Linked DNA regions of Homo sapiens. The protein of the gene in region 1 interacts with the protein of each later gene in a pairwise test. Each region holds a gene or a part of one and is shown on either strand. Other genes may lie near its edges.

The links.
Region 2: the proteins of ANKRD2 (region 1) and MAPK6 interact in binary tests that used the Homo sapiens proteins (3 or more experiments, as listed by UniProt).

The regions. Positions count from the first base shown.
Region 1 is NC_000010.11:97,572,720-97,583,642, reverse strand, and holds the start of ANKRD2 (ankyrin repeat domain-containing protein 2), read right to left. Parts: upstream 10,855-10,923; coding exon 10,768-10,854; intron 5,844-10,767; coding exon 5,742-5,843; intron 5,404-5,741; coding exon 5,245-5,403; intron 5,146-5,244; coding exon 5,038-5,145; intron 2,789-5,037; coding exon 2,690-2,788; intron 2,328-2,689; coding exon 2,229-2,327; intron 1,329-2,228; coding exon 1,230-1,328; intron 1,040-1,229; coding exon 941-1,039; intron 68-940; coding exon 1-67. UniProt on the Homo sapiens protein: Functions as a negative regulator of myocyte differentiation. May interact with both sarcoplasmic structural proteins and nuclear proteins to regulate gene expression during muscle development and in response to muscle stress.
Region 2 is NC_000015.10:52,021,255-52,032,177, reverse strand, and holds part of MAPK6 (mitogen-activated protein kinase 6), read right to left. Parts: exon of another isoform or gene 10,614-10,923; intron 4,540-10,613; exon of another isoform or gene 4,305-4,539; intron 1-4,304. UniProt on the Homo sapiens protein: Atypical MAPK protein. Phosphorylates microtubule-associated protein 2 (MAP2) and MAPKAPK5.

The DNA.
Region 1 (10,923 bases):
GATGCTCCAGGGCGTGCCGGGTATCAGCCTGCCAGAGCTGCACCAGGTCCGTCGGGGTCTTTCCTGCCTGGAGGGGGCGGGACGGGGCGTGGGGGTTGGCAAGAGAAAATCTGTTAACTGTCCTGAAGGCTTTCACAGAAGGTACCCTCATTGACACCACCAGTGCTTCTCAAATGGGGGCAACTGGCATTGTGTGAAGATACTTTTGGTTGTCACACTAGGGGATGGGTACTACTGGCATCTAGTGGGCAGAGGCCAAGAATGTTGCTTAAATATCCTACAAGGCATAGGATGGTCCCCTACAACAAACAATCACCCAGCCCTAAATGTCAATAATGCTGAGGGTGAAAACCCCTCATTTATACCTTCTCCATATTTTCCTGCTTTTCTCATTATCCCTTTAGCCTTTCTTGAGCCCGAGGGACTCTCCCATGGCCTCCTTTTGTGAATGCTCTGGGCCCCAAAGAAGAACTTGGACTAAGTGTTCCCTAGTCCAAGGTGTTCCCTGGGCACCTTCCCCTTCCAAGGACTTCCTGCCTAGATCCTAAGAAAACTCAAAGACCACAGGAGCTGACATGGGGTGCTAGGAACTGTCATGCCAGCTGAGTGCTCGGTCCCTTCCAGCTCTGGCCTTTCATGATTCTGGCCTCCTTGGGCCAGTACTTGAGGACCCCCTCTGGCCTACTTGGGGGTCTTTGGGAAGTCCTCTTGCTGCCCCTCCTGCTGTCTCTCTGCACTTGCACTCTGGACATAGACACACATAGAGAATGGGGCGGACAGTTGGAATGGTGCTCTGGAAGAGGACAAGTTTATGTACTATGGTGCTGGCCAGAGCCAATGATACATGTCCCTAGGCGGGGGCTGCTCCAGGGACCAGGACAGCACCTCCACTGTATGAGTGCTCACGCCAGTGACTGAATCAAGGAGGGAATGAGCTTACCAGGTTCTTGGTCATCATGTCAGCCCCATGCAGGAGCAGCAGTTTGATGATTTTGTAGCGGTTGAGCCTCACAGCGTCATGCAGGGCAGTATCCCCTTCCTAGAGTCAGTGTGGCACTCACTATGGCCCTTGTGGGCAGTGGGAGGAGGCAAGGGTGATGGGAGGTGGGCTGGAGACCCTGCTCAGGAGCCAAGTCCTGAAGGCCCCAGGAGGAAGGACACCACCTGTAGGGGCCCGCAGGCTGCCCACACACCCATGGCGGGTGAGCAGCGGACAGGCTAGCACTCACCCTGTCTCTGGCATTGATTTCCAGGCCCAGGGATAGAAAGTGCTCCACAATCTCCACCTGCCCTGTCCGGACTGCCACGTGCAGCGGGGTGCTCAGCAGCTGGGTGGGAGGAATCAGGAACTGCTAGTTGACGGGGCCTGAACTGTGGTACCCCTGGGAAGGCGGGGGCTGTCCTAACTCCAGCTTAATCCCTCTTCCAAGTCCTAGTGCCAAGGCCTGAGCCTTGGAGGGGCAGAGAATGGTACAATTTCTTACCATCCTATCCAATGGCCTAACTCTAAAGCCTTAAATGCCACTTCCTCTGGGAAGCCTTCTGTGATTCTCCTCTCACCCAGCTGCTCACTCTTCTACCCTTCTTTTAATAATCATAATATATGTCATTTATTGAGAGATGACTATGTAATGGACATGGCAAAAGCTTACAAGACATTTGCCTTATGTTGAATAAATAATTCATTTACACATGTTTTCCCACCTAAGCTACACAAGAACTCTGCAAGACATTTCACAGATGAGCAACAGAAGCTCAGAGGCTGTCACTTGTTCAAGGTTGTACATGAAATAATGAATGAATAGAAGGATGGTGCATAAATAAATAAATGAATGAGGGGATGAATAAATGGAGGAATGGATGGATGGATAGACGGATAGATGAATAGATAGGTAGACAGAAGGATAATGACAGATAACATGAACAAATCTTGCATCTTTTGAGTGGTCCCAAAGCCCCCAACACAGTGAGTCTCTTGTCTTCCCTTCTTGTCTGCTCTTCCTGCTCCTATCCTCAGATGGTGGTTCCTCAAGGGCCTGTGTGGATGGCAGGGACCCATCCCTGGGCTGGGAGGCCCAGTAGGACACTGTTTTAGCTTCCCTGCTCTGCAGCCAGAAACCAGACTAGCTCACTACCTTCCTGCCCCCTAGGCTTTCCTGCCCTTGGACCCCTGCCTTTCTCCCCACAGCCACCCCAATATCTGTTGCTTCTGAGTGTTTTTGCCTCACCTTATCCCTCACATTGGTGTCTGCTCCATGGCTTTGCAGAAGTTTCACCACCTCTAAGTGGCCCCCGCGGCAGGCCCAATGCATGGCTGTGCAGTCCAGCTAGAAAGAAATGAGGGGGTCTAACTACAGAGCTGCAGGGAAGAAAGTATTCGGGGGTAATGTACCCCAGCCAGGAAGGCAGAGGGATATCTAGGGGAAAGGTACAGGGAGCAGGCCTGGGCATGGGCAATGGACCAAGTGGAACAGAAGAACACTCAGGGCCCATCTGGTCCAAGCCAGACTCACAGAGGATGCTTAGGGAGGAGAAGGGGCTTACTCAAGGTCACATAAGCCACTGAGGTGGAGTCTGGCACCTGAGCAACCTGTTTATGCTTCAGGTTGGCACAGGTGGCAGGGAGAGGGTGTCTGTCAGTGCTGGACCCACCTCCTGTCTCCCATTGAATACCTGCCCTCTCACTCACCCGATCCTGGAAGTCCACAGTGGCCCCATTATCTAGAAGCTTCTCCAGGATTTCCATGTGGCCTTCCAGGGAAGCTCGGTGCAGTGCTGTCCGACGGAACTGTCCCCAGAGAGGCTGTCAGGGCCTGGCCTCTGGCTCCAGGCCTGAGCCCATCTCCCACCCAAGCTGAGGCCCAGGCCTTCCCCCCAGCTTGATTCTCACCCCTGTGCTTGGCCCCCATGTTTTCTGTGTTCTGCCAGCTCCCTTATGCTCTATCCAGACCAGCCTGGGAGCCCTCTGCCCCAGGGAACCCGACCTTCTCACTGCCCCCCAGGCACATCAAGCCATGCCTCTCTACAGGTGGTTTCCTCTGCCAAGCATGCCTGTTTTGCCCTCACTTCCTGGGAGTGCTTGATAAAATCTGCTACTCCTTCAAGATGCAGCTCAAATGCCATCATTTCCTTGAAACCTCTAGGCCAGGGCTTCCCTAGGGCCCAGATGACCCTTAACTGTGAGAGTGTGTTCGAGGGCAGGTCAAGTCTTGCTGGACTCCCCAAGTGCCTAGCACAAGGCCAGCATGAACAGGTGACACTGATCACTGATTCAAAGAAAGAATAAACTTTTCCCCTTCTCCTTTCTGCCTTGGACTTTTGAAACGCTCAAGCCACAATATCTTTCCATATTCTCATGATCTGGTTACAGGACACACACAGTGAGTATCTTTCCTTATTCTAATGATCTGGTTACATGTCAGTCTCCCCAAGGAACCAACCCTGGTCTGTTTTTTTGTTTTGTTTTGCTTTTTTTGTTTTTTTGTATTCTGGCACCTAGCATGGTGCTCGGAAGTAGGAGGTAGTTGGACAGACTGAGAGGATGAAGACTCTGGAGTCTAAAGAACAGAAAGGACATGTGGTCCAAGTCTACAATAATGCAGACCAAAGGTGGAAAACCACTAATGTGCCAAATTCCAGGATACGAGAGCAAGAAAGCACCCCGGGAAGTGTGAAAGAGGCAGTTTCAGGCAAAACAAAAAGAAGTATGATGGGTGATGAAAAATTTAGAAAATATGGCTGTAAGGGGCCGGACACGGTGGCTCATGCCTGTAATCCCAGCACTTTGGGAGGCCGAGGTGGGTGGATCACCTGAGATCATGAGTTCAAGACCAGCTTGTTGTCAAGGGCCAACATGTTGAAACCTTGTCTCTACTAAAAATAAACAAATTAGCCGGGTGTGGTGGCGGGCGCCTGTAATCCCAGCTACTCAGGAGGCTGAGGCAGGAGAATCACTTGAACCTGGGAGGTGGAGGCTGCTGTGAGCTGAGATCGCACCGCTGCACTCCAGCCTGGGGGACAGAGCAAGACTCCATCTCAAAAAAAAAGAAAAAGAAAAAAAAAGAAAATATGGCTGCACAACATTGTGAATGTAATTAATGCCACTGAATTGTACACTTAAAATGGTTAAAGTGGAACATTTCACGTTATGTTTTACCATGAAAAAAAAATAGGCCAGGAGTGGTGGTTCAAGCCTGTAATCCCAACACTTTGGGAGGCTGAAGTGGGAGGATTGCTTGAGCCCAAGAGGCGAAAGTTGCAGTGAGCTGAGATTGCGCCACTGCACTCCAGCCTGGGTGACAGAGTGAGACTCTGTCTCAAAAAAAAAAAAAAAAAGTACAGTACTATACCATGAGAAACAAAAATATCATATCTTAACACATGCTTGATAGTTTCTTCATTCATTCAGTGAATACTGAGTTACTGAGGTGCTAATATTCCTTTTTTCCTTTTACCAAAAAAAAAAAAAATCTATATCTTTATCTATATATGTATAGAGACAGGGTCTCACTCTGTTGCTTAGGCTGGTCTTGAACTCCTAGGCTCAAGCGCTCCTCCCACCTTGACCTAAAGTGCTGGGATTACAGACGTGAGCCACAGTGCCCAGCCTAATATTCCATTTGATCACCGTAACATGTTGTGAGGGAAGTAGGCCATTTTACAGAGGAGGAAACTGAGGCATGGAGAGGGCACCGACCCAGCCACAGGTCCCACAACTCGTGAGTGAGAGAGATGGGATTTGAGCCCACATCTTCTGGTCCTGGTCTGTTTTTATTTGATTCTATTTTTCTTTCTTTCCTAAACAAACATGTGACATTTGTTGCTCTGCAGGTGATTCAAGTTGGAAAAGGGTTTAAGGATTTAGGTCAATTCCTGTACGGGGAAGGGACACCCATTCTGAGCGCCCCAGCCACCCACCCATCCAAAGAACACCGGTGCCTCCTCTCAAATAGGCTCACAGTGGGCTGACCCAGGAGCCGAACGGAGTGGGGGTGGCAACTGACAGGGAGGCTGGTCAGGGGCGGCTAGGAGCATCACCTGGTCGCACGTGTCGGCTGACCCCCCGTCAGCCAGGAACTTCTCAATGACCTTCATTTTCCCCTCCACCGCAGCTTTCAGGAAGGTCTCCTCATCCACAGGGCCAGTCTGCAGATGTGGACGCAGCAGTCACGGGCCGTCCCAGCAATCCGAAGCCTCCCGGGCTCCCCCTCCGCCCCCTCGCGGTGTCCTCCCCAGGACCCTTACGATCTCCTCGGGCTCTGGGGGCGGCTCATGCGAGGCGGCCAGAGCGTCCCGCTTCTTCTGCTTGCGTTTCTTCCGCAGCTCGATGAGGTTCTGGATCCCGCCCACATCGATGATCTCCCGCCGCAGGTCCAGGGACGTCTTGCGCACGCGCTCTTGGCCCTGCGCGGGATGGCCCATCAACCCCCCAGGCCGGGCAGAGAGTTTGGGGGGCTTGGGAGACCTCTGAGCTAAGCTGGTGGGGAGGGTGGGGTGGGCAGGAAGACCCTCTTAAGAAAGAAGGAACCAAGGTCTATCCCTCCTTCCAGGCCTAGATGGCTCTCACATTGGGGGAATTCTGACTCAGTAGTTCTGGGACGGGGCGGAGATTCTGCAGGGCTAGCAAGCTCTACCGGGGGTGCTGAACTGCTGGTCCATGGGCCACGTGGGGAGAGGTGCAGACAGGCCATGGCTACCTGGCTGGTCCCCTGGGTGCAGACATTGGATCCTCCCAGGCTTACCTTCACCTTCTGCAGGGCTGCACTCTGAGCCCCGTGGTGCTTCTCATCCTCCAGCACCAGCAAGTCCATGGGCAGCTTCTGGCGTGCGTCTCCTCGGAGTTTCTGGTGATCCAAAGAGGGCACCTTCTCCAGGACCCGAGGAGACAGGCAGCCTCTCCCCCAACCACACCAAGGACACCCCACAGAGACATCCTCCTGGGTGGTCTCAGAGCCCTTCTGGCTGATCCTGGGGAGCCCCCAGCAAGAGCAGGGCCCCTGGAGGGGCCCCCAAAAGGGGTGAGTTCCCCACCTCAGCTTCAGCCCCAGTCCCAACCCTGAGCTCAGACACCTGCCCACTAACTGGCCTGGATCCCTGCAAAACAACATTAAAGGCCACCAGAGTTGAGTTTTTCATGAGATTAAATATATTCACTCTTTCAAGCACCAAGATTATTTTTTTCTTTACTTTTTTGGCATTAAAAATTCACTTTGGCTGGGTGTGGTAGTGCCAGCCTTTAGTCCCAGCTACTGGGGAGGCTTAGACAGAAGTATTGCTCAATCCCAGGGGTTCGAGACCAGCTCCAGAGACATAGCAAGATCGTGTCTCTAAAAATAAATAGGCCAGGCACAGTGGCTCACCTCTATAATCCCAGCACTTTGGGAGGCTGAGGTGGGAGGATCTCTTGAGCCCAGAAGTTTGAGATCAGCCTGGGCAATATAGTGAGACCCCATCTTTACAAAAAAATTAAATAATTAGCCAAGCGTAGTGGCTTTTGTTGTAGTGCCAGCTACTTGGGAGACTGAGGTGGGAGGATTACTTGAGCCCAGGAAGGGGAGGTTGCAGTGAGCCAAGGTCATGCCACTGCACTCCAGCCTGAGTGACAGTGAGAGAGAGAGAGAATGACCCTGCCTCAAAAAATAAATAGGCCAGGTACAGTGGCTCACGCCTATAATCCAAGCACTTTGGGAGGCCGAGGCAGGTGGATTGCTTGAGCCCAGGAGTTCGAGACCAGCCATAGGCAACATGGTGAAACCCCATCCCTACTAAAAATACAAAAATTAGCCAGGCGTGTTGGCACGCACCTGTAGTCCCAGCTACTTGGGAGGCTGAAGCACAAGAATCACTTGAACCCAGGAGGTGGAGGTTGCAGTGAGCCAAGATCGTGCCACTATACTCCAGCTTGGGCGGCAGAGTAAGACTCGGTCTCAAAAAATAAATAAATAAATAAATAAATAAATAAATAAATAAATAAAATAAGTTTTAAAAATAAATAATTCACTTTGATGAAATGATTATGATGAGAGATGATTACTTCTTAAATGTTCTTACTCAGCAATATAAAATTTGGCAGCTCTTTGTTAGATACTATTTTTTTTTTCTCTCAGATTTCACTGATCTGTGAAGTCTAGAGCTTGGAAACTATTGCTTTCAGGGGAACTTGGTGATGGGAGCAGCAGCTCCTCAGCCTTCAGCCTGAAACGGGCTCTAAGTCTTAACCTTCTTTTCACTGTAATCCAGGTCCAACTGCCTGCCAGGTCTTCTCTGCATTTGCCCTCTGATTTTCCTGGACTGCTTCTTCTCTCTTTGTGATGTGCTGGCACTCCCATCTCTGCAGTCCCCACCAGGCAGCTTGTGTGGCTATGAGTCCAGGAACAATTGCCCAGGTTGGAGGGTCCTGAGTCAATGTGGCAGCTGGGAAGGAGGCCACCCTTACAGAGCACTCAGGCCCCTTTCCCATTCCTCCCTGAGCTCCCGCATTTGCTCCTTCAGGGTGGTTTTGAGAGCCGATTTCCCAGGTCTTCATTCTGAAGGTTCTGTTAGCCACTGCTTTCTCTCTTTCATGTTGGGCTTCATGGTTTGAGGTCTCAGTGCTGGCCTAATCAGAAACACTGCATCTTCTTCCAAGAATGAAAGATAACCTGGGGCTGCAGCTACTGCTGCATGTGGGACTCTGGCTGGGCTCCTCAGGGAGCATCCAGAGGGCCAGCTTGTGTATTTTTTTTTTTTTTTTGAGACCGAGTCCCACTCTGTCACCCAGGCTGGAGTGCGGTGGTGTGATCTCGGCTTGCTGTAACCTCCACTTCCTAGGTTCAAGCAATTCTCCTGCCTCAGCCTCCTGAGTAGCTGGGACTACAGGCGCATGCCGCCACGCCTGGCTAATTATTTTTGTATTTTAGTAGAGACAGGGTTCCACCATGTTGCCCAGGCTGGTCCAAACTCCTGAGCTCAGGCAATCCGCCCACCTTGGCCTCCCAAAGTGTTGGGATTACAGGCGTGAGCTACTGCACCCGGCTATAAATTTTGTTGTTGTTGTCACATAGATGAGAGGTTTCCATGTTGTCCAGGCTGGCCTCAAATGCCTAGCCTTGCCTCCTTATGCGCCAGGACAACAGGCCTGAGCCACTGTGGCTCCCGAGCTTGTGTCTTAATCATCTTGGTGTCCCCAGCATCTGTGACAGGCTCTAGCACATAGTAGGTGCTTAGTGACTGGTGAATGAATGAATGATCGAATGGATGATGGCAAGCAGACTCAGCATCTCTGCTAACCCTTAAGTTCTCAGTGATGACCTAACCCAGTAAACTCGCCACAGTGGAACTCCAGCCCCTGCACTGGCCTCTGGGGCCCTCTTTCCCCTCCCACCCTGGGGATGGGGCACAGGCTAGACAGAGGTTCTCCTCCAAGAACCCTGCCAGGCTGGGGCCTGGTAGAGACAACTGGGGACTCTAATGCTCACCCACATCTTCCTCAGACCCTACAGCCCTTCATTTCAGGTTTGTCTTTGTGGGCTGGCACACAGTAGGTGCTCAGTAGCTGTTTGCTGCATTGAATGTGAGTTCATGAAACACACAAAGCTCCCACTTTACGTCATAGATTGCTATGCAGATTAAATGGGAGAATGCCTGTAAAATGCTTAGCACAGGGCCTGGCACTGGTGTCCTGACAGCTCTGTAGCTATATTTATTGGATGAATGAACGGAAGACACTGCTCTGCGTCCCCTTGCTGAAGGTCTGTGTGTCTATTGGCAGCACTCCAGAACTGGCATAGCAGCATGACTCACCTGCCTGGCACCAGCCAACCATAGGCACATGCCCTTGGGGGAGGGAGAAGTGGGATTCCTAGAGATCCAGGGATGCTTGCCCCAGCCAGGGCTCATTCCAAGCTCTTTCCTGACCTCATCCCTTCTTCCCTTGGGGTCTTGACCCTTCCTTCCTCCTCACCCCTCATTCAGTCACACTCCTTTTTTTGAATGGCATCTACCTCCAACCTGATTTATCTCCTCCCCTCCATTCCTGCTAGGGCCAGCCTTTTCCAACAAGTCCTTCTCAGGGCCATCAGAGCTGCTTTCCTAAAATAGGTCAGATGACACCAATCTCCCTCACTCAATAACATTTAGTGGCTCCTCACTGCCCACAGAATAAATATCTTTTACATGGCCCTCTCTGGCTTGTGTCTTTCCAGCCTTAGCCCCTACTACCAGACTTTATCAAGACAGCCACGCTTTCACTCATGGAAACTTCAGCTCCTGCATTTCCTGAGGCTGGAATACCCTCCACCATCCTGGACTCCACTGAGTCCCCTTGAAGGCCCAGCTCAGGTATCCTCCTGTCCACAGAGGAGTCCCCTTTTTTTTTTTTTTGAGACGGAGTCTCCCTCTGTCACCCAGGCTGAAGTGCAGTGGTGCGATCTCGGCTTACTGCAACCTCCGCCTCCCAGGTTCAAGCAATTCTCCTGCCTCAGCCTCCTGAGTAGCTGGGATTACAGGTGCCTGACACCATTCCTGGCTAATTGTATTTTTAGTAGAGACAGGATTTCACCATGTTGGCCAGGTGAGTCTCGAACTCTTGACTTCAAGTGATCTGCCCACCTCGGATCTCAGATCTCAAAATGCTGGGATTACAGGCTTGAGCCACTGCACCTGGCCCTGTCCACAGAGGAGTCCTTGAAGGCCCTCAGAACAATTCATGAGCCCCTTGTGTTCCTCCACTTCTGATTCACACCTCTATTTAGTCATTTCTTCCCTTTGCCTTGTTTCTTAGTTGACTATGAAACCAACAAATGGGCTAAAATGAATCCTGGGTTGGTAAAAAGAAGGCAGGGTCTGACCCTTATTGGTCCACCCATTTCTACAGCTCTGGGCTCTTGGCAGAGCCAACACTAGATGAAGTATTAGTTTAAATAAAGTGAAGAGTAGGGGCCGGGCATGGTGGCTCATACCTGTAATCCCAGTACTTTGGGAGGCCAAGGTGGGTGGATCATCTGAGGCCAGGAGTTTGAGACCAGCCTGACCAACAGAGTGAAACCCCATCTCTACTAAAAATACAAAAATTAGCCAGGCATGGTGGTGCATGCCTGTAATCCCAGCTACTCGGGAGGCTGAGGCAGGAGAATCGCTTGAACCCAGGAGGCGGAGGTTGCAGTGAGTCAAGATCATGCATTGCACTCCAGCCTGGGCAACAGAGGGAGACCCCGTCTCAAAAAAAAAAATGCAGAATAGGACAAGCCAGCACCCCCTGCCACCGCTCCACTTCCTTATCCCAGAGAAAATGCAATTGCCCAGAACACCACACGCCAAAGGACTCCCCAAGGGTGGCCAGCAGGCTGGCAAAATCCATGCTTCATTTCCCAGCATCCCTTCCTCACTCTCTTCTTCACTGGCCAAATACTGGAGTTTCCCCTGCCCCAGCCTCCCACTCAGTCACTGGGGCATCACAGGGCCACACATTCCTGAAAGTCCCAGGCAGCACCCAGCTGTCTGCTTTGTACAGCCCACTGTCTCTCAAGGCCCAGGAGGGTGAGCAGTCTTAGGAAGCCCAGCCCAGCTCCCCATCTCACTGACTTAATTTTGAAGGCTGAAGCCTCAGTCTTCTGCTGCCAGCAATACCCCCTGCCAGTAATACCCTGGGACAGGAATGAGGCCCAACTGGGCCCCTGGGGACATCTGCCCCCCTCCCCACCACAGGTGTAGCAGACAGGATCTCCCTCCCCTTGACAGCAGAACTGGATCTCCTCAGACCCCCTTGGGCACCTCCACCCCTGCTCGCACCTCATTCTCCTCCTCCTGTGCCAGCCGCTGCTCGATGAGCGCTGTGGCCCTCTGCACCGCCTCGGAGTCCTCCATGGTGCCGTCCATAACCGCCTCTGCAGGCCACAGGGCCTCGGGGGCTTTATAGGCCAGAGCACCCACCCCTGCCCAGCTGGG
Region 2 (10,923 bases), on another chromosome or scaffold:
GTTGGGCTGGGCACGGTGGCTCACGCCTGTAATCCCAGCACTTTGGGAGGCCGAGGCAGGCGGATCATGAGGTCAGGAGATCGAGACCATCCTGGCTAACATGGTGAAACCCTATCTCTACTAAAAATACAAAAAAAATTAGCCAGACGTGGTGGTGGGCGCTGCAGAAGAATGGCATGAACCCGGGAGGCAGGGCTTGCAGTGAGCCGAGATCGTGTCACTGTACTCCAACCTGGGCAACAGAGCGAGACTCCGCCTCAAAAAAAAAAAATTATTTGTTCATATTATAAAGAAAGTCACAGCACTGAACATGAAAATAAAATGGTGAAATTTTTATTTTATTTATCTTGAGACAGGATCTCGCTTGCCCAAGCTGAAGTGCAGTGGCATGAACATGACTCATTGCAACCTCCACCTCCATTGCTCAAGGTGGGTGGACCATCTCAGCCTTCTGAGTAGCTATGACCACCGTGCAAGGTGCCACACCCGGCTCAATTTTTTATTATCTTGGTAGAGACAAGGTTTCCCAATGTTGCCTATGCTAGTCTTGAACTCCTGGGCTCCAGCGATCCTCCCACCTTGGCCACCCAAAGTGCTGGGATTACAGGTGTGAGCCACCACGCCTGGTCAACATTTTACAAGAATATAAGCAAGGTTTTATTGAGACTGTATTATGTGTGAAGCATTGTGTTGGACATATACCCTTACACTAAATCCTCCCAATAGGCAAAATAGGCAAAATATAATCTTTATTTTAGAGAACTTAAAAAACACATTCAAGATCACACATGAATGAGAGAGCCAGGATTTGAACCAGGTTTGTAAACCAAATTCCATTATCTCTCACTGTAACTTATTTTTTTATTGACAAGTATAGTACATATCTCCCTTCACTCCCCAACCTTTTGAGTAGAGTATATTTCCTATAGACAAAGACCTTCTTCTGGCTGGGGGCAGTGGCTCACACCTGTAGTCCCGGCACATTGGGAGGACAAGGTGGGCGGATCACTTCAAGTGAGGAGTTTGAGACCAGCCTGGCCAACAGGGGGAAACCCTGTCTCTCTACTAAAAATACAAAAATTAAGGCCAGGCATGGTGGCTCACACCTGTAATCCCAGCACTTTGGGAGGCCAAGGCGGGTGGATCCTTTGAGGTCAAGAGTTTAAGACCAAACTGACCAACATGGTGAAACCCTGTCTCTACTAAAAATACAAAAAAATGAGCCAGGCATGGTGGCACATGCCTGTAATCCCAGCCACTCAGGAGGCTGAGGCACGAGAATTGCTTGAACCCAGGAGGCAGAGACTGCAGTCAGCCGAGATCACGCCACTGCATTCCAGCCTGGGTAACAGACTGAGAGCCTGTCTCAAAAAAAAAAAAAAAATTAGCTGGGCATGGTGGCACACGCCTGTAGTCCCAGCTACTCGGGAGGCTGAGGCAGGAGAATCCCTTGAACCTGGGAAGCGCAGGTTGCACTGAGCCAAGATTGCACCGCTGTACTCCTTCATCCTGGGCAACAGAGTGAGACTCTGCCTCAAAAAAAAAAAAAAAAAAAAAAAAAAAAAAGCCTTCTTCTGCATAACTAAAACACAACCATCAAAATCAAGAAATTAACGCTGGTATAGTACTACCATCTGATAATCAGGCCCCATTTAAGTTTCTGCAATTATCTCAATCATGTACTTGGGAGGTAAAGGACCCAGTCCAGAATCACGTTACACTGGGTACAATGCAATTATTATGCAGTTTTTCCCTTCTGAGATTTAAAGGAATCAAACATTTTATACAGTCCACAAAAATTTACTGAGCACTTAGCATGTGCCAGGCACTGTTTGACAATATAGTAGAGAATAAGACAGACAAGGTTCTTCTGCTTCCGAAGAGCTCGCATTCTAGTAAGGAAAGACCAACAAACATGTTAGCTAATTAACAAATTCAGATTTGGCCTAGTAGCTGGGAAATGGCCCTCTGAGGAGCTGAAACCTGAATAAGAAGCTACCAGCACTGCTAAGAGATGGGAGAAGGGCATTCCTAACAGAGGAAACAACAAATTGAACAAACCTAAGGCAGGATAAAACTTGGCATTTTGGAGCAAAAGAAATGCCAGTGTAGCCACAGCATCCACAGCAAAGGGCAAAGGAAAGGAGGTAGCAATGAGGAAGGAAGGAACACATGAGGCAGGATTCTGAATCTCATAACTAAGACCAAAGAAAAACTATGAAACCATTTTAAGCAGGCAATCTACATTATTTCATTTACATTTCTGAAAGAAGATTCTTGTTACTGGGAGAAGAATGTCTGAAGAAGGTAGCTGAGTAAAAGCAAAGACCAGTTAAGAGCTATTTCAGTAAGCCAGGTGACATAATGGTGGCTGAGACTAAGGTGGCAGAAATAAAGATGTAAAACAGATAATTGAATAAACAGATTTAAGTGATATTTTGGAGACCAAAAGAACTTGATGATGGATTAGCTATGGGGATAAGGGAAAAACAGGATTCAAGGATAAATCCTAGGTGCCAGTTACAGAAGAGAGAAAGACTGGAAGAATATTATGGAAGAGAGTTCTATTTTGGACATGTTAGGTATATTTAGACAACTGCCTACTAGGTTACTAAGTGGTAATGTCTAGCAAGGCAGTTGGATAATATGTCTGGAGCTCAGGCAAGAAGTCTAAACCAGAAACATAAATATGAGAATTATTCACATACAGATGGCATTTAAAACAATGAGTTGAATGAGACCATCTAGGGAAGAATTTAGAAAAAGAGGGTGAAAAAAAAACCCAGGAGTTTTATCCTGTCTTAGGTATGCCAATACTTAGAGGCAGGTAAAGGAGAGAAGCCTGTTTAATAATTAAAAAAAAACAAAGCTAGGTGCAGTGGCTTATGCCTGTAATAAGGAGGCTGAGGTCAGGAGTTCCGAGACCAGCCTGACCAACATGGTGAAACCCCATCTCTACTAAAAATACAAAAATTAGCCAGGCGTGGTGGTGTGCGCCTGTAATCCCAGCTACTGGGGAGGCTGAGGCAGGATAATCACTTGAACCCAGTAGATGGAGGTTGCAGTGAGCCAATATTGCGCCACTGCACTCCAACCTGGACGACAGCGAGACTCCGTCTCAGAAACAAAAAAAAGCATACAGTATAACAAGGTGTAAAGTAGAAGGAAAACAAGAACATATGTCTCATAAAATGAGAAGTAGATGAATAGGCCGAAAACAGTGGTCAACTATATTGAATGCTCCTACAAGAGCCTGTAAGACTAATTTAGTAAATAGAAACCACTGGCAACCTTGACTAGAGTAGTTTTAGTGGTAAGAATGGAGGCCAATCTGTAGTAGGCTGAGAAGCAAAGGGAAGTGGAGAGAGCACAAAAAGACAACTTTTGAAAACTGGCTTGGAAGAGAATCAGAGAAATGAGGCTGTAGCTAGAGAATAATGTGGAATGGCGAGAGGGCTTATAAACAAGGAAGCCACACTTAGTGCTGTCCAATAGTGTTGTCTGCAATGATAGGGATGTTCTATATCTGCACTGTCCAATAGAGCAGCCATTAGCACCATATATGGCTACTGAACAACTGAAATATGACTAGCATCACTGAGGACCTAAATTTTTTAAATTTTTCTTTTAACAGCCACACATTTCATTGCAGAAAGCACTATTGATTAGTAGCTACCATACTGGACAGTACAGCCCTAAAGCACATCTGCATATTAATAAAGATAATCCAGAAAGGGAAAAATTCATGATGTAGGCAAGAACGAGGTAAGTCCTTAAGAAGTCAACAGGCTGGCAGGGTGCGATGGCTCACTCCTGTAATCCCAGCACTTTGGGAGGCCAAGGCAGATGAATCACTTGAGGTCAGTAGTTCAAGACCAGCCTGGTCAACACAGAGACGAATCCGTCTCTACTAAAAATACAAAAATTGCCGGGCGCGGTGGTTCACACCTGTAATCCCAGCACTTTGGGAGGCCGAGGCGGGCGGATCACAAGGTCAGGAGATCGAGACCATCCTGGCTAACACGGTGAAACCCTGTCTCTACTAAAAATACAAAAAATTAGCCGGGCGTGGTGGCAGGCGCCTGTAGTCCCAGCTACTCGGAAAGCTGAGGCAGAAGAATGGCGTGAACCTGGGAGGCAGAGCTTGCAGTGAGCTGAGATCGCACCACTGCACTCCGCCTGGGCAACAGAGCGAGACTCCGTCTCAAAAAAAAAAAAAAAAAAAAAAAATACAAAAATTAGCCGGGCGTGGTGGTGGGCACCTGCAGTCCCAACTACTCAAGAGGCTGAGGCAGAAGAATCACCTGAATCTGGGACGCAGAGGCTGCAGTGAGCCAAGATCGTGCCACTGCACTCCAACCTGGCCAACAGAGTGAGACTCCATCTCAAAAAACAGTAAATAAATAAATAAATAAATAAATAAATAAAGAGAAATCAACAGGCTGAGCAGAGTGGCTCATGCCTGTAATCCCAGCACTTTTTGAGGCCGAGTCAGGATGATTGCTTGAGCCCAGCCTGGGCAACACAGGGAGACCCCGCCTATAAAAAAAAAAAAAAAAATTAAGATTAAAAAAAAAGTCAAGAGAAGACATCCAGAGCACAAATGGCACAATCTACATGGGATACAACATGAACAAAGCAAGGCATGAAATTACAGTAACGGGTAGAGATGAAGACTCAGAATATGTATTAAGCCTGATTGGAATCTTAAGCATAAAACTCAATTACAGAGGGCTATAAAATCCAAGCAGGAGGGGGAGGGTAGGTAACTTACATCTACTAAGGACCTATTATGTGACAGGCATTTTCTTTTTTTTTTTTTTTTTTTGAGAGGGAGTCTCGCTCTGTCACCCAGCCTGGAGTACAGTGGCACGATCTCGGCTCACTGCAAGCTCCGCCTGCTGGGTTCAAGCAATTTTTCTGTCTCAGCCTCCCGAGTAGCTGGGATTACAGGCATACGCTACCATGGCCAGTTTTTTCGTATTTTTAGTAGAGATGGGGTTTCACCACGCTGGCCAGGCTGGTCTTGAACTCCTGACCTTGTGATCCGCCCGCCTCGGCCTCCCAAAGTCCTGGGATTACAGGCATTAGCCACCGCGCCCGGCTGTGACAGGCATTTTCTTTTTTCAAGACAGAGTATTGCTCTGTCGCCCAGGCTGGAGTGCAATGGTGTGATCTCGGCTCACTGCAACCTCCGCCTCCTGGGTTCAAGCGATTCTCCTGCCTGGGCCTTCAGAGTAGCTGGGAGTACAGGTATGCACCACCATACTCAGCTAATTTTTTGTATTTTAGTAAAGACGGGTTTTCATCATGTTGGCCAGGCTAGTCTAGAACTCCTGACTTTGTGATCCGCCTGCCTCGGCCTCCCAAAGTGCTGAGATTACAGGCATGAGCCATCGCGCCCAGCCATGACAGGCATTTTCTAAATGACAAATTATTTCTCTCATCTCAAACTACAGTCTTGTAAATGTCATTTTACAAACAAGAGCACTGATGCTCTTTACACACACAGTAAATGCCAAGATTTGGACATAGGCCTGTGACTATAGGGTTAGAATCTTCCCACTGCATAAGGTGGGAGGTTAAGGCCAGGCACGGTGGCTCACGCCTGTAATCCCTGCACTTTGGGAGGCCGAGACGGGTGGATCACTTGAGGTCAGGAGTTCAAGACCAGCCTGGCCAACATGGTTGAAACCCCATCTCTACTAAAAACATAAAATTAGCTGGGCGTGGTGGTGCATGCCTGTAATCCCAGCTACTTGGGAGGCTGCAGCAGGAGAATCACTTGAACCCAGGAGGCGGAGGCTGCAGTGAGCGAAGATCACACCATTGCACTCCAACCTGAACAATAAGAGCAAAACTCCGTCTCAAAACAACGACAACAACAAAACAAAAAAAGGTAGGAGGTTAAGAACCACTGTTTCGGTACCTGGAATTAACATAAACAGCAGATCAATCTGGAAGTAATCAACAAGTGCCAACAAGCCTAGAGGGACTAGGCCAGAGGCAAAAACTATCCTGCCAATGCTTTCCACAGGATAACTAAGGAAAACTTAATAGCTACTTTTTAAAAATTCAAGTGAAAATACCTGTTAAGATGGAAAGAAACTGACTTGCTTACAACTTAGATTATCTACTTTATTGAACACAGATGTATCAATTAGAAAATCAGCACTGTTTTATAATACATACTGAAATAATATCTGGGCATATTAGAAAAACTAAGTCAACATACTCTCTCTCCAATTTGTACATTAAGAAAGGACAATTATTAAACTGAGTCTAACCAGTTATTAAATTACAGCTTAGATTTTAGAGTGGGCAAAGATCATCTAGATCTGTGCTGTCCATGTAACCACCAGCTACATCCAACTATTTTTATTTTTTTTTGAGACGTAGTCTTGCTCTGTCACCCAGACTGGAGTGCAGTGGCGCTCACTGCAAGCTCCGCCTCCTGGGTTCATGCCATTCTCCTGCCTCAGCCTCCCAAGCAGCTGGGACTACAGGCGCCCGCCACCCGGCTAATTTTTTGTATTTTTAGTAGAGACAGGGTTTCACCATGTTAGCTAGGATGGTCTCGATCTCCTGACCTCGTGATCCGCCCGCCTCAGCCTCCCAAAGTGCTGGCATTACAGGCGTGAGCCACGGCGCCCAGCCCCAACTATTTAAAGGAATTAAAATTAAATAAAAAATTCAATTCCTCAAGTGCACTACTTGCTCGTCAAGTATTCAACAGTCACACATGGCCAATGGCTACCTCACTGGATAGCACAGAACACTTCTATCATCATAGAAAGTTCAACTGGGCAGTGATTAGCTTCCAAATTTTCCATTTGACTTTTTTCAGAAGGGCCAGTGGAAAGAGCAACTCAGAAGACTAACGAGCTGAGCAACCATGTATGCATCATTTTAATTTTTATTTATTTACGTATTTTTTGAGACAGGGTCTCTTGCTGTTGCCCAGGCTGGAACGCTGCGGTGCGATCACGGCTCACTGCAGCCTCAACCTCCTGGGCTCAAGCAATCCTCTCATCTCAGCCTCATAAGTAGCTGGGACTAAAGGTGTGCACCACTACAACAGGCTAATTTTATTTTATTTTGTAGAGACAGGGTCTCACTATGTTGCCCAGGTGTATGCATCGTTTAGCAGTGCTTCTCAAACTGAATGCGCACTGAATGACTTGAAAATCTTGTTAAAATGCAGGTTCTTCCCAGCACGTTAGGAGGCCAGGAGTTTGAGACGAGCATGGGCAACACAGTGAGACTCCAATTCTTAAAAAAAAAAAAAAAAAAAAAAAAGGCAGTGTATGATGGCACATGCCTGTAGTCCCAGCTACTGAGGTGAGAGGATTACTTGAGTCCAGGAGTTCCAGGTGGCAGTGCGTTATGATCACACCACTACACTCCAATCCAAACTGGGCAACAGGGCAAGATTGTGCCTCTTATTTACAAAAAAAGAAGGCCGGGCGCGGTGGCTCATACCTGTAATCCCAGCACTTTGGGAGTGCTGGGCGGGCGGGCGGATCCGAGGCGGGCGGATCACAAGGTCAGGAAATCGAGACCATCCTGGCTAACACGGTGAAACCCCGTCTCTACTAAAAACACAAAAAATTAGCCAGGCGCGGTGGCAGCAGCTGTAGTCCCAGCTACTCAGGAGGCTGAGGCAAGAGAATGGCGTGAACCCAGGAGGCGGAGCTTGCAGTGAGCCAAGATCGTGCCACTGCACTCTAGCCTGGGTGACAGAGTGAGACTCCGTCTCCAAAAAAAAAAAAAAAGAAAAAGAAAAAGTAGATTCTAAGATTCTAATTCAGTAGGACCGTAGGACTGAGATGAAGTCAAGATTCTAACGTCTATCAAGTTCCCAGGTGATGCTAATACTGTTGGTCCAGAAATCACACTTTCAGTACCAAGATCTTAGATCTCTTCAGGCCTTGGTTTCCTTAGCTGTCAAACGATGTACATGAATGAAGCAAGATAATGCCCATGACCCCTCCAAAACACTAATATTTTAAAGTTTTATGATTGTACAGAATTAAATGCATACAGATTTGCACTTTCTGCAGAGGCAGACTTTTCTGAGGTAAATGCTAGGATTCTAAAAAACAAGTTTTATGATACCATTTTTTTCTGTGAAAAAAATACCAAATTTAACGAAAATCAATGGGAAATTGTATTTGCTATACAAACATTCAATCTCTGAACAATTTTTTAGAAATGGACTTAGAAGACTGACATGTATAAAAGACAAAACTTTTAGAACTCTATTGGCTGGGCGCGGTGGCTCATGCCCGTAATCCCAGCACTTTGGGAGGCCCAGGCAGGCGGATCACAAGGTCAGGAGATGAGACCATCCTGGCCAACATAATGAAACCCTGTCTGTACTAAAAAAAATACAAAAATTAGCTGGTCATGGTGGTGCGCACCTGTAGTCCCAGCTACTCGGGAGGCTGAAGCTGAAGAATCGCTTGAACCTAGGAGGTGGAGGTTGCAGTGAGCCGAGATGGCGCGACTGCGCTCCAGCCTGGCAACAGAGGGAGACAGCGTCTCAAAAACAAAAAACAAACAAACAAAAAAACTCTTAGAGAGACACACATTATTTTCCAAATACGCAGTTCATGGAGGTGAAAAAACCAATCAATGCTGGACTAGGCCCAAATCACTGTCACCTTAAAAGCATCAGCTTCACATGAAAGCAACCCCTGGAAAATGCCATTAACTACAGTAACATTGGAGTTGTTTTTGTGAAGTCTCAGTCAAGGCTCTCAGCAATAAAAATGAGCAAAATTCCCACACCACTGGCAGGTTGTAGTGTAATGTTCAACAGCCCACAAAACAGGCTGAAGGAACTAATGAAGGCAGCCAACAATGCCACACAGAATTTACTTCTGAGGCATCTTCTTTCCATTTTAACAGGGGACCTAGAGTAACACAAGGTTCAAATGTAACAAAGAACTGGATAGCAGTGGTAAGAAGGCTCAGCATTTCATAAAGCAGTACCTTGGAGACAGGAAGCAGGCTAAGATATCCAGTTATTTTGTTTGTTTTTCGGTTTTTTTTTTTTTTTTTTTTTTGAGACGGAGTCTCGCTCTGTCACCCAGGCTGGAGTGCACTGGCACAATCTCGGCTCACTGCAACCTCTGCCTCCCGGGTTCAAGCGATTCTCCTGCCTCAGCCTCCTGAGTAGCTGGGATTACAGGCACGTGCCACCACACCCAGCTAATTTTTGTATTTTATTAGAGACGGGGTTTCACCATGTTGGCCAGGATGGTCTCGATTTCCTGACCTCGTGATCTGCCTCCTCAGCCTCCCAAAGTGCTGGGATTACAAGCGTTAGCCACTGCCCCCGGCCTCAGTTTGTTTTTAAACTCTGAATTATGCACTACAGCTAATTACCTATATTTGAAAACAATGCCGAAAATACGTTAAACCTCTAAGTAATGTGATGCTCTGAAAATTTTCAATACTTTTATATTTGTATTTTTATGTTTCCTCTAGTAGGAAATTTTTTTTAAGTTTGAATTAAACTTTGTAAAAAAAAAACCTCTAGGTATAAATCATGCAATACTCTTCCAAAATAGTTCCAAAAATTTAATTCACATTAACAATACATTTTATGGGCTGGGAGCAGGGGCTCACACCTGTAATCCCAACACTCTGGAAGGCTGAGGCAGGCAGATTGCTTGAGCCCAGGAGTTCAAGAACAGCCTGGGCAACACTGTGAACATTCATCTCTACAAAAAATACGAAAAACTAGCCAGGCATGGTCGCACACAGCTGTAGTCCCAGCTCCTCCGGAGGCTGAGGCAGGAAGATCACCTGAGCCCGGGAAGTAGAGGTTGCAGTGAACAGTGATCGCACCACTACACTCCAGCCAGGGTGACAGAGCAAGACCCTGTCTCACAAAAACAACAAACACTTTACTGTCCACAAACTCCTCAAATCCCTTTGGAAAAATAAACAGTATACACAGAAAAACCAGAGGATGGGGTGGGAAATTTTTTTTCTTTTATTTTAAAAATTGAGACAGGGTCTCGTTATGTTGCCCAGACTGGTCTTGAACTCCTGGCCTCAAGCGATCCTTCCACCTCAGGCTCCCAAAGTGCCGGGATTACAGGTGTGAGCCAACGCACCCAGCCCCACTCTTAAACTGCCATTCTCAATCTTTTTCCCCCTCTCAATCTTATTTTAAGCCACCTTGCTAAACGTTGGCTGTTTTAAAATCAGTCAAAAGATTTATCTTATTACCAAGTTTCAACTTAGAACTGTACATTCAGCTTATCTTTAAAAAAAAACCATGAAAAATAGTGACTAATACCTATTTCAAATTGTCTTTATTAAAACAGAAAATTCACATAAATCACAAAGCACAATATATAATTATGTTTTAATAATTCTGAGTGAAACTTTCATATTCAGAGCCATATCTGATTAAATATTAAATATAAAGATAACTTTCACATAACCAATAAAAACATAAGGTCAATTTCTACCGACACCATAAAAGTACTATCTGTCCTTTATAAACAACCTGTAACAAATCTCTCTCAGCAGTAGCCAAAAAACTGCTAGTATCAAACATTTAATTTCAGCACCTGACCAGAAATTGGTTTTACCTTTCCTCTCAGCAAATGTTACACAATTCCACCTGTAGGGTATATGATATCCTTTTAAAATGCAATTTAAGAAGCCATTACTTTTTTAGAGAAACTGCTGTTCCTCTTCAGAAAAAATGAGAGAGAATTTCAATGTGGACAGGAACATTTTAGCCTATCATTTAGAAAAAAATACAGTGTATTTAAAAAAAAAAAAAAAAAAAGCCACGTAGCAGTCCGTGGGCAGCATGAGTCATCATCCAACTCAAAACTTGCAGCAGCACTTGTAAGCTTCCTCCTACCCGACCCCCATCCCCTTCAGCAAAGTACC